3 linked regions of the Homo sapiens genome follow. The protein of the gene in region 1 purifies or fractionates together with the protein of each later gene. This does not show direct contact. Each region holds a gene or a part of one and is shown in the gene's direction. Other genes may lie near its edges.

What was found.
Region 2: the proteins of TPRX2 (region 1) and KDM6A purify together in Homo sapiens (affinity purification with mass spectrometry, with the first as the bait; one large-scale study listed by BioGRID). This does not show direct contact.
Region 3: the proteins of TPRX2 (region 1) and ZNF609 purify together in Homo sapiens (affinity purification with mass spectrometry, with the first as the bait; one large-scale study listed by BioGRID). This does not show direct contact.

What each region holds. Positions count from the first base shown.
Region 1 is NC_000019.10:47,857,715-47,861,463, forward strand, and holds the start of TPRX2 (tetrapeptide repeat homeobox protein 2), read left to right. Parts: upstream 1-1,520; 5' UTR 1,521-1,532; coding exon 1,533-1,557; intron 1,558-2,398; coding exon 2,399-2,568; intron 2,569-3,087; coding exon 3,088-3,749. UniProt on the Homo sapiens protein: Transcription factor expressed after fertilization required for zygotic genome activation (ZGA), a critical event in early embryonic development during which the developmental control passes from maternally provided mRNAs to the expression of the zygotic genome after fertilization.
Region 2 is NC_000023.11:45,068,653-45,072,301, forward strand, and holds part of KDM6A (lysine-specific demethylase 6A), read left to right. Parts: intron 1-926; coding exon 927-1,705; intron 1,706-3,649. UniProt on the Homo sapiens protein: Histone demethylase that specifically demethylates 'Lys-27' of histone H3, thereby playing a central role in histone code. Demethylates trimethylated and dimethylated but not monomethylated H3 'Lys-27'.
Region 3 is NC_000015.10:64,676,970-64,680,618, forward strand, and holds part of ZNF609 (zinc finger protein 609), read left to right. Parts: intron 1-1,146; coding exon 1,147-1,513; intron 1,514-3,215; coding exon 3,216-3,391; intron 3,392-3,649. UniProt on the Homo sapiens protein: Transcription factor, which activates RAG1, and possibly RAG2, transcription. Through the regulation of RAG1/2 expression, may regulate thymocyte maturation.

The sequences.
Region 1 (3,749 bases):
CCCGAGTAGCTGGGATTACAGGCATGTGCCACCATGCCCAGCTAATTTTGTATATTTAGTAGAGATGGGGTTTGTCTATGTTGGTCAGGCTGGTCTCGAACTCCCTACCTCAGGTGATCCACCCACCTCGGCCTTCCAAAGTGCTGGGATTACAAGCGTGAGCCACTGCGCCCGGCAGAACTTTCTTATATTTAAATGTCTATCTTCACAAAATAGTACCAGTGAGCTTGTTCATCTGCTTATGTCTTTATTGGCCAAATAAATAGCCACGGTGCAAAATCTCTGTGGTCACTACTGTGTTCCCAGCATGTCCTGTAGATGAAGCCGGACAATGTGTGCAATGAGGAATCATTGCTGGGGATGCTGCTTTCTACAATAGAACTCTAAGTAGCAGGTGAAAACAATGAGCGAGGCCCGTGGTAACAATGTCTACGTTTTATTGAATTTTGAAATTGGTTGCATGAGTCATTTCTTTTTCTTTTTTTTTGGGAGGGGGCCGGAGTCTCCCTCTGTCACCCAGGCTGCACTGCAACCTCTGCCTCTCAGGTTCAAGTGATTCTCTTGTCTCAACCTCCCAAGTAGCTGGGATTACAGGTGCCTGCCACCAGGCCCGGCTATTCTTTTTGTAGTTTTAGTAGAGACGGCGTTCTGCCATGTTAGCCAGGCTGGTCTCAAACTCCTGACCTCAGGCGATCTGCCCGCCTCGGCCTCCCAAAGTGCTAGGATTACAGGCGTGAGTCACCGCGCCCAGCCTTGCATGAGTCATTTTTAGCTCCCTGGATCATGAGCCTTGTCAATCTCCTTGACCCCTGAACCCATGTGGGTCCTGCTATGAGGAGATGAGGGCAGCCAGGGGTCTGACACAGCAGATGCATCTCTGAGGGACCTGACTTGTGTGAACCAAGGTAATGGGTCCCCTGCATACATCAGTAGCAGTCCATGGAAATGTCCATCAGACCTGTGTCCCCTCCTGGTTGGGGGAGCAGGAAACTTCAAGAATGACTAGTAGGGGCCAGAGTGGCCTCAAAGGACCAAAGAGGAGGCTGTGGGGTCATCCAGGAGAGAGGGATGGTGACTGGACAAGGCGGGCAGCCCGGGAGCCGGGAGGAGTGGGTAGACTCGCTGGCATTGATCATGTGGGGCCCCAGCCCTGGGAAGGAATAAGGATGACTCCTGGGGGCTGGCTGGCGGTGCCTCTCCTGAGATGGGGACCCCAACCACAGGTCATGATGTTGACTCCCCCGATCCCATGTGGAATACCACCTCGCCTGGGCTAGGGCCCATGAGGGTGAAACCAAGGCTGTGTTGTCCACTGAGGTTCCCCAGCTCCTAGCACAGCTCAGCAGGCAGTACCTGATCAGTGATGAGGGATTAATCCACCATTCAACTCCTCCAGGGGGCGGGACTGCAGGGCAGGGTGGGAAACGGAGGGTCCTGGCAGGGTGGGCCAGGGTGGGCACAGCAGAGAAGTGATTTAAGAGCCAAGCCCTTGTCAGTACACACTTGTGTTTGGGAACAGATCAGGACTCAGGATGCAAGACCCTGGTCATCTCCAAGGTGAGCAGGGACAGAGGTGTGAGGGGCCTGGGCTGATCCTGTGGCTGAGGCTGCAGAGTGCAAATCTGGGCAGCCAGAGAAGGGCTGGGCCTGTGCGGGCGGCTTCCTGTCCTGCAGACGGGGGAGAACTTAGTGGTGTCTGGGAAATGAAAAATCATGCAGCTGGGCGCAGAGTCTCACGCCTGTGATCCCAGCTCTTTGGGAAGCCAAGGTGGGAGGATCACTTGAGCCCGGGACTCTGAAACCAGCCGAGCCAACATAGTGGAGACCCGTCTTTAGCAAAAATACAAAAATTACCCAGGGGTCGTGGTGCACACCTGTGGTCCCAGCTACTCGGGAGACTAAGGCGGGGGGTTCCTTGAGCCCAGGAAGTGGAGGCTGACTTGAGCCGTGATCACATCACTGCACTCCAGCCTGGGTGACAGAGCGAGATCCCCTCCAAGAAAAAGAAAGAAGGAAAGAAATTAAACCATGCAGTTGAGTGGAGCAGAGGACTGGGCAGGTGGCGGCTCCCCTGCAAGTGTCAGGGTCCCTATAACCCTTGGATGGGAGGGGACGGGGCAGCTGGGGAGGGCTGAGCAGGCCTGAGGCAGCCCCGTCTGCTCCGAGGTGAGGCGCCTACGCTGCCTGCCTTCCCAGGAGCTGTTATCGCGCCCATTTCCTAGATGTGGACCCTGAGGCCCAGAGAGGTGCAAGGTCTGGTCTGGATACCAGGCTGCTATCCGCGGTGCCGCCCCAGCCCACACTGCCTGGGCTCCTGGCCTGGCGCAGGGGACGGGGTCCCTAGGGGGGCTGGGGGCTGCCTGGGGGTTTCTGTGACCTGTTTCCCTCCCACCCCCAGGCCCTCCCCTGGCCCTGGACCCTCCAAGGAGACAGCGGCAGGAGCGCACGGTCTACACTGAAAGCCAGCAGAAAGTGCTAGAATTTTACTTTCAGAAGGACCAGTACCCGAACTACGACCAGCGACTGAATCTGGCGGAGATGCTCAGCCTCAGGGAGCAACAGCTGCAGGTCTGACCCCCACCCCCACCCCGCCCGCCCCAGTCACCCCAAGGAGCCTCCCCACCGCTGTCACTCACCGGGGCCTGGCCCGCCCGACCACCTCCCGCCCTGCCACGCAAGGGGTCCCGCCAGTGTAGACCCGGGCTGCATCCTGAGTCCTGTTCCAACTCTATGCTAGCCCAAACTCGCCCACATGATCGGCCCAGGCTGTCCCCCACGGGGTCTCCCGGTGCCCGGACCTCAGGCACCCGTGAGAACCCGCGGTCCCTCCCCTGGAACCCTCCCTGGCCCCCCGGGCACCTGGGCGGCAGACCCGGCTCCTCCCCTCCCACCCCACCCTCCTCCCCCTACTTTCCCCTCCCTCTTCCCTCCCTTCTCCAGGCCTGGGAGCCGGGGGCCCTCATATGGTGGGTGCGGGGTGGGGGTGAACACCGGGAGAGTTTTGAGGCCGGCGCCGCCCCCGAGCGGCTCACCCGGGCCGCGCGAGTCCCTCCTTCACACCTTCTCCCTGTCCCCTCTGCCCCCCAGGTGTGGTTCAAGAATCGCCGCGCCAAACTAGCTCGGGAGCGGCGGCTCCAGCAGCAGCCCCAGCGCGTCCCTGGGCAGAGAGGCCGAGGAGCCCGCGCTGCGCCCCTAGTCCCTGTAGCCGCTGCCTCCTTCCCTGGGGGTCCTGAGTTCCCGCAGGGCAGGGGTTCCTGGATCTCCCCTCAGCCGGGCCCCTGGGGAGTCCTCCCAGCAGCAGAACCGAAGATCTACAGCCTCCCCCGGACCTGGGGTGGCCCTGAGTGTGGAACACAGGAGGGCCTCAAGGCTGTCCCGGCTCCAGGCCCTGGCCCAATCCCAGCCCCTATCCCAGGCCCAGCCCAGATCCCAGGCCCAGTCCCAGGCCCAGCCCCGAATTTAGGCCCAATGTCAGGCCCACTGTCAGTCTCGATCCCCGGTCCAATACCAGCCCCCATCTCTTGCCCAGGCCCAATCCCAGACCCAGTCCTAGGCCGAACCCTGATGCCAGGCCCAGGATCACTCCCAACCCCAGCCCCAGGCGCCTTGTGGCCTCAGAGCCCCTATGCCTCCAACTTGTCGCCAGACACCCAGTTATACCCTGACTTCACCAAGCTGCTCCCGCTCCTAGACCGGTTCGAGGAATCCTCACTCTCCACCACGACGTCTCAGTACAAAGAGGAGGATGG
Region 2 (3,649 bases), on another chromosome or scaffold:
ACTCCTGGGCTCAAGAGATCCTCCCACCTTGGCCTCCTGTGTAGCTGGACTACAGGCACACTTGTCAACACACCTAGCTTGTCTGCCTGCTTTCCTTCCCTCTCTCCCCTCTCTCCCTCCTCTCTCCTCTCTCTTCTTTCTCTTTCTCTTTCTCTTTCTCTTTCTCTTTCTCTTTCCCTTTCCCTTTCCCTTTCCCTTTCCCTTTCTCTCTCTCTTTTTCTTTTGTGGAGACGGAGTCTCATTGTGTTGCCCAGCCTGGTCTCGAACTCCTGGCCTCAAACGATCCTCCTGCCTCGGCCTTCCAGAGTGCTGGGATTACAGACATAAGCCACTGCACCAAGCCTATCTAGTCTTCTAAATATGTGTGGATGGATAGATGGGGAAACTTTAGGTATTTTTTGAAATATTTTCATAGATTTAATAGTTCTGCCCTTAATTTTGAGGATAGCTACTTTAACAATAGGATTTGAATTACAGAAGATTATATTTTAATGATAATTTTAAAGGCTTAATGAACTCACTTTCTATATTAATCTTTTAACAGATCACAGACCAGTGAGAGTTGGTTTATGTTGATCCATGGTCATAGCTTTTAATTATTAATGATGATATATGTCTATCCATGTCTGATTTTAGAGATGAAAATATGTATATTGGAACTTAAAATTTGTAATGCTTCATCTGAAGTAGTTTATTCTACACTAATAATGGAGTCATTTTAGATAGCAAGGAAGAAAAATTTCTCTAAAGATGTTAAATACTGATTAGCTAAGTTGCAGGTACTTTTTGATAACTTTAGGACTTGGGTCAAATTATCTTATACAGTTAGATATTTATTTTTAGTGGCTTTTCTCTTTAATATTTTAAATTCTGTATATTCTGAGTTTGCTTAATATTAGATTTAAACTATTTTTCTTTCTTTTTAGGGGCTTCACAAAGGTCAGAGTTCACATTCGGCAGGTCCTAATGGTGAACGACCTCTCTCTTCCACTGGGCCTTCCCAGCATCTCCAGGCAGCTGGCTCTGGTATTCAGAATCAGAACGGACATCCCACCCTGCCTAGCAATTCAGTAACACAGGGGGCTGCTCTCAATCACCTCTCCTCTCACACTGCTACCTCAGGTGGACAACAAGGCATTACCTTAACCAAAGAGAGCAAGCCTTCAGGAAACATATTGACGGTGCCTGAAACAAGCAGGCACACTGGAGAGACACCTAACAGCACTGCCAGTGTCGAGGGACTTCCTAATCATGTCCATCAGATGACGGCAGATGCTGTTTGCAGTCCTAGCCATGGAGATTCTAAGTCACCAGGTTTACTAAGTTCAGACAATCCTCAGCTCTCTGCCTTGTTGATGGGAAAAGCCAATAACAATGTGGGTACTGGAACCTGTGACAAAGTCAATAACATCCACCCAGCTGTTCATACAAAGACTGATAACTCTGTTGCCTCTTCACCATCTTCAGCCATTTCAACAGCAACACCTTCTCCAAAATCCACTGAGCAGACAACCACAAACAGTGTTACCAGCCTTAACAGCCCTCACAGTGGGCTACACACAATTAATGGAGAAGGGATGGAAGAATCTCAGAGCCCCATGAAAACAGATCTGCTTCTGGTTAACCACAAACCTAGTCCACAGATCATACCATCAATGTCTGTGTCCATATACCCCAGCTCAGCAGAAGTTCTGAAGGCATGCAGGTTAGTGTGGGAAAGTTCATCAAAGTGAAAATGTTTGACTTACTGGCATGATCAGAATGCTGAAATTTGGACCGTTTAAGATATGGGAAGTAAGCAAAAGATGGTGTAGTCATTCATCTAAGAGTTTGACAGAAGCTTTATTTTGCTTAGATGTTGTAGTCAAATCAGATGTGAGAAGTATTCCTGTAAATTGCTTATTTTGAGTGGGTGTGTCTGATTGTGCTGTTACTGCCCTCTACTGGTTACTAGGTTGTCAGCTTCAGTGTGATTGACTTCGCTCTGGGGATTTAAACAAGAGAATGGGTTAAATCATATTTGGCCAAATACAGCAAGGCTGGAAAACCCTATGGGTTTTTTTTTTTTTTTTATCAGAGCCTATTAAATGTTAGGCTAGGAATGGACCCCATCACTTATCAAGGCTAGTCTTTGCTTACAATTGAGAAAACTGGACTGTTTGAATCTAGAAGAGGTTATAAAGCAGGCAGAAGAGGAAGGAAGAGGTCAGGGGCAATGGGCAGTGGAGAGACATGACAGACTGTCAGCCATTCTGGAAGGAGCCAGACATATTCTGCTAGTCTAGGAAGGGCAGGGCCTCAGAAATTTATGAAGAAATGAACCTCCTCTGTCCCACAAAAGAAGAATCAAAGGATCAGGCAGCATCATCTTTCTCTGATATTTGGAGGACATATAGATTCTTACTGGCCTTTTCATTGTATATGACACATATATAATTTTTCTCATTTACTTGTAGTTGTTGTCCTCTATAAGTGACTAAATCTTGAATGAAATTTAGTTAACATAACTGGAACAAACAAATAATTCTGTAATATTTTCTGATACATTAAATGTTAAGTTTGAGCAGACATATAGTAGATTTTAAAAAGATCTTTTTTTGGTTGTAGATTGTCATGATATATAGAAAATAACCATTCTATAAATAGAAATTATAAACATTAGTTCTAGTTTGGCTACATTGACCATTTAATATAGCTTTTACATTTTAAAGTTCAAAACAATTCTTATTTATAGCCATATAAACCTCTTCCTGCAGTTGCTAGTACTTATATGTCTTATTTATTGTTATGTAAAAGTGTGATTATCTTTTCTGTTGTTCAGATTATTTTATTAGAAGGTATCCTGGGTCTACCGTTAAATGTTTGTCACTGACGAATGATTGAGGTGAAATTAAATTTTATTTATATATAAGTTTGCTGCTTGGGAGGGATGTGGGGTAGGAGCAATGGAGTATGGAGAAGAAATTTCAATTAATTTAAATTTATCGCTTTAATTGTGACACTAGAACTTTACTATAAATTACACTATAGTCATTTTTCTTTAAAGAGTTTGAGTGTTAAAAATACCTTTTGGTCTGTGTTTTCTTTTCTTTTCTTGTCTTTTCTTGTCTTTTCTTGTCTTTTCTTGTCTTTTTTTAAGACAGTTTCGCTCTTGTTGCCCAGGCTGGAGTGCAATGGCGCGATTTCAACTTACCGCACGCTCTGCCTCCCAGGTTCAAGCGATTCTCCTGCCTCAAGCCTCCCAAGTAGCTGGGTGGGATTACAGGCATGCAGCACCACACCTGGCTAATTTTGTATTTTTTAGTAGAGACGGGGTTTCTCCATGTTGGTCAGGCTGGTCTTGAACTCCCAACCTCAAGTGTTCCACCTGCCTCTGCCTCCCAAAGTGCTGGGATTACAGGCGTGAGCCACTGTGCCCAGCTGGTCTTTGTTTCATTTTCTATTAGTTTCTATTTCTGTTAGTTTCTATTTCATTATTTCCTGTCAAATTTTAACTATTTAGTTGTTATTCTGACATAGACTAGGGCAGAAATTACATCCTTTTTTATATTTTATTTTTTTCTTTATTGGGTCCACGTTGTTGGCAGCATTTTCCTTAGTGACCTACAACATGGTGATTGCTGTAATTAATCTTAACTGTCTTACAAGA
Region 3 (3,649 bases), on another chromosome or scaffold:
GTCTTGATCTCCTGACCTTGTGATCCACCCACCTCGGCCTCCCAAAGTACCTGGATTAAGGCGTGAGCCACTGCGCCCAGTCGTAATTTTTTTTATTTTTATGTTTTTATAGAGACCAGAGTCCCTCTGTGTTGCCCAGGCTGGAATGCAATGATGCAGTCATAGCTCACTGCAATTTCCAACTCCTAGGCTCAAGCAGTCCTCCTGCCTCAGCCTCCCAATTAACCAGGACTACAGATGCATGCCACCACACCCAGATGATGTTTTAATTTTTTGTAGAGAGGGGTCTCACTATGTTGCCCAGGCTGGTCTTGAACTCCTGGCCTCAAGCAATCCTCGCGCCTCAGCCTCCCAAAGCACAGGGATTCATATTAATGTTTTTTAAAAAGCACTTTTATATCCATAGCAGGTGTTTTTTCCATTTGACAGGAAAGGCCCAGACAAGTTAGCTTAATTTGTCTGGGGTTACTTGAGACCTCACTAGCAGAGCCAGGATTAGAACCCAGGTATCTCGATTCCTTGTCCGTGTTTCCTCCACTGTTTGGTTCCTATGAAATGAGTTATTGATGGTCTCTCTATTTTTTAGAGTAGGTCCAAAGTATACTCAGTTACTGAGTTTCTTTAACAAGGATTTTATAGGTTGAGTTAGAACTAGGAACTTGGAATCTCATATCTTGCTCTGCTCATGAGACTTAGAATGTCTTCCCTTCCCTCTTGGTATAATAGTTATGCTTCCCTCCCTCCTCTGATCTGAGTGTCACTTATAAGCTTTCCAGTCCCTGAGCGTGCTCTGAAAAAGTGAAACAATCTAAACATATTGGAAGGGGCAGCCTCTCCTATTTCAGTCGTTTTCCCAGAATGCTTGTTCTTACCTAGAAAACATCCACTGATGCATGGATGGATTTTCCTTTTCTCCCCCTGCCCCATCTTGTTCCCTGTGGGTGGGTGCAGAGGTGGGGGCGGGGGCTTTTTAACCAAAAGGGAGCAGAGTTGGATTATAAACAAGATCAGTAGAGGCCAAAATCCTACTCTGCCCCAGGTGTCTAGTACTAATTATCTGCTCTGGTGGTTCTACTGGGACCTTGGGCTTGAAGTATATCTGTCTTATCTGTACAACACCCAGTCGTTGTTCTGTGATTGTTGTAGGAGGCAGAGCCCCGGATGTGGACATATGTTTATCCTGCCAAGTACTCAGACATCAAGTCAGAGGATGAGCGGTGGAAGGAGGAGCGGGACCGCAAATTGAAGGAGGAAAGGAGTCGGAGTAAGGACTCTGTCCCCAAGGAAGATGGGAAGGAAAGCACAAGTAGTGACTGCAAGCTGCCCACGTCAGAGGAGTCTCGCCTTGGGAGCAAGGAGCCCCGGCCAAGTGTCCATGTGCCTGTGTCCTCCCCACTTACCCAGCACCAGTCCTACATCCCCTACATGCACGGCTATTCCTACAGTCAGTCCTACGACCCCAACCACCCCAGCTACCGGAGCATGCCTGCTGTGATGATGCAGAACTACCCAGGTACAGCACCAAGTGCCAGCACTATTCCATTCACTGGAAGGGGGAATGAAGCACAGATTTCACATCCAGAGTTTTCTTGCTCAGCCCCAAGGCATATTGAGGCTCGCTTAGATGACGGACCTTTTTTCACTGAGTCATTCTGTGAGGTGGCCACCATAACCCATAGTTCCTTGAATGACCCATAATGATAGTCTGTGTGACTACCTCTCTCTCCCTTGCTCCAGCTCAAGGATTGTCTCTGTAGTCAGTTTTCATTGCTAACTAAAGGTAAAACTCCTTCTCTGTCACTGCTGTCTCCCCTCAGCTGGAATTTGTAAACCATATACTCCACGTTTTGCAGTGTGCTAGGCACTGTGGGAGGTACAAAAGAAGTAGAGCCATTGAGTTCCTTCCACTCCCGGAGCTTACAGCTTAATCATAGTGGAGAGACACAAAGAACAAATAAAATGCAAACCATAACAATGCATGGATTCAGTTGCCAGATCATGTTCACCTGTCAAGTAAGAAGAGCCATCTGAAGTCAGACTGGGGGGAGGTCCTGCTAGATTCAGCTTGGAAAAGACAAGCTCTTTATAGTGTTTAAATGTTTTTTGTTTGTTTGTTTTTTGAGACGGAATTTCACTCTTGTTGCACAGGCTAGAGTGCAGTGGCGTGATCTCGGCTCACCACAGCCTCCACCTCCTGGGTTCAAACGATTCTCCTGCCTCAGCTTCCCAAGTAGCTAGGATTACAGGCATGTGCCACCACTCCTGGCTAATTTTGTATTTTTAGTAGAGACGGTGTTCTTCCGTGTTGGTCAGGCTGGTCTTGAACTCCCGACCTCAGGTGATCCGGCTGCCTTGGCCTCCCAAAGTGCTGAGATACAGGCATGAGCCACCGCTCCGGCCTTAAATGTTTTTTAACTTGTTAGAAGAAAATGCTCTTATTTAACTCTACTCGTTTTGTTGCCCAAAGAACCATGTGGGGTGCTTCTGGGGTGGAAGGGCACTGCTTTAGCCTCACTCCTTAGAGCCTCCAGCTTCCTACAGCAGCCTAAATAGTCTCAACATTCTGGTGACATTATTATAAAGCACACTCTAAATAGAAATAAGCTTTTCAAACAGAAATAGGAAATTTCTTACCCTTGAGGTGTTCCTTTATCCCTGTCACTCACACCCATCAATATAAAAATCATAGTTGCATTTGTTGAGTGCTCGCCCTGAGCCAGGCGCTGTCCTCTGAGATTTATAGACATTATCTTTTTTAATCCTCCCTATCACCTTAAGTAATAAGTATTGATATCTTCATTTTTGATGATGAAGAAACTGAAGCTCAAAACAGTTATTTATTTGCTCAAGGTTACCAAGCTAGTAAGTCTCAGAGTAAGGTTTTGAGCCCAAGGCTCTGACTCCAGATAAGTGTGATCTTTCCACTTTATCATATCACTTCTCCAAGATGAATCTGAGACCAGTTCAAAGAACAGTATCAGATCTATGGAAGTTGGAAGCAGGAAACAGGGCCATGTTCCTAATATCCCTTAGCTAATTTTTCCTGTAGAGCTCAGTAAAGAAAGGTCAAGCCAACAGTCTCAGCCAAAGACACTATGTTAGAAAATACCTCAGCCTGTGCCTAGGAAAGCTGATGCCCACCCAATCAAGCTCACTAAAGCAGAGTTTCCTCTACCTCTCCCATCTCTTTGACTGTTTGATTTCTCCTTCCACAGGTTCCTACCTGCCTTCCAGCTACTCTTTTTCCCCATATGGCAGCAAGGTCTCAGGTGGTGAAGATGCTGACAAGGCACGAGCCAGCCCCAGTGTGACTTGTAAATCCAGCTCAGAGTCCAAAGCCCTGGACATCTTGCAGCAGCATGCCAGTCACTACAAGAGCAAGTCTCCCACGGTAAGAAAAGTACAGTGATGCTGGCTGTTACCCAAAGACTAGTAAGGCCAGATCCAGGGTCTGGGAGAAGGTGGGCAAGTTCAGGTCCTGACCACAGTGCAGCTTGGCTGACTTGACACTGGCAGCCCCCAGGGCATCTTCTTTATTCTTAGGTATCTTGCACTTTTAGGGGTCATAAGGTGGCACCCTGGGCATCTCACTTGTGTGTGTGTGTGTGTGTGTGTGTGTGGTTGTATGCATATGTGTCTCACTATAGTG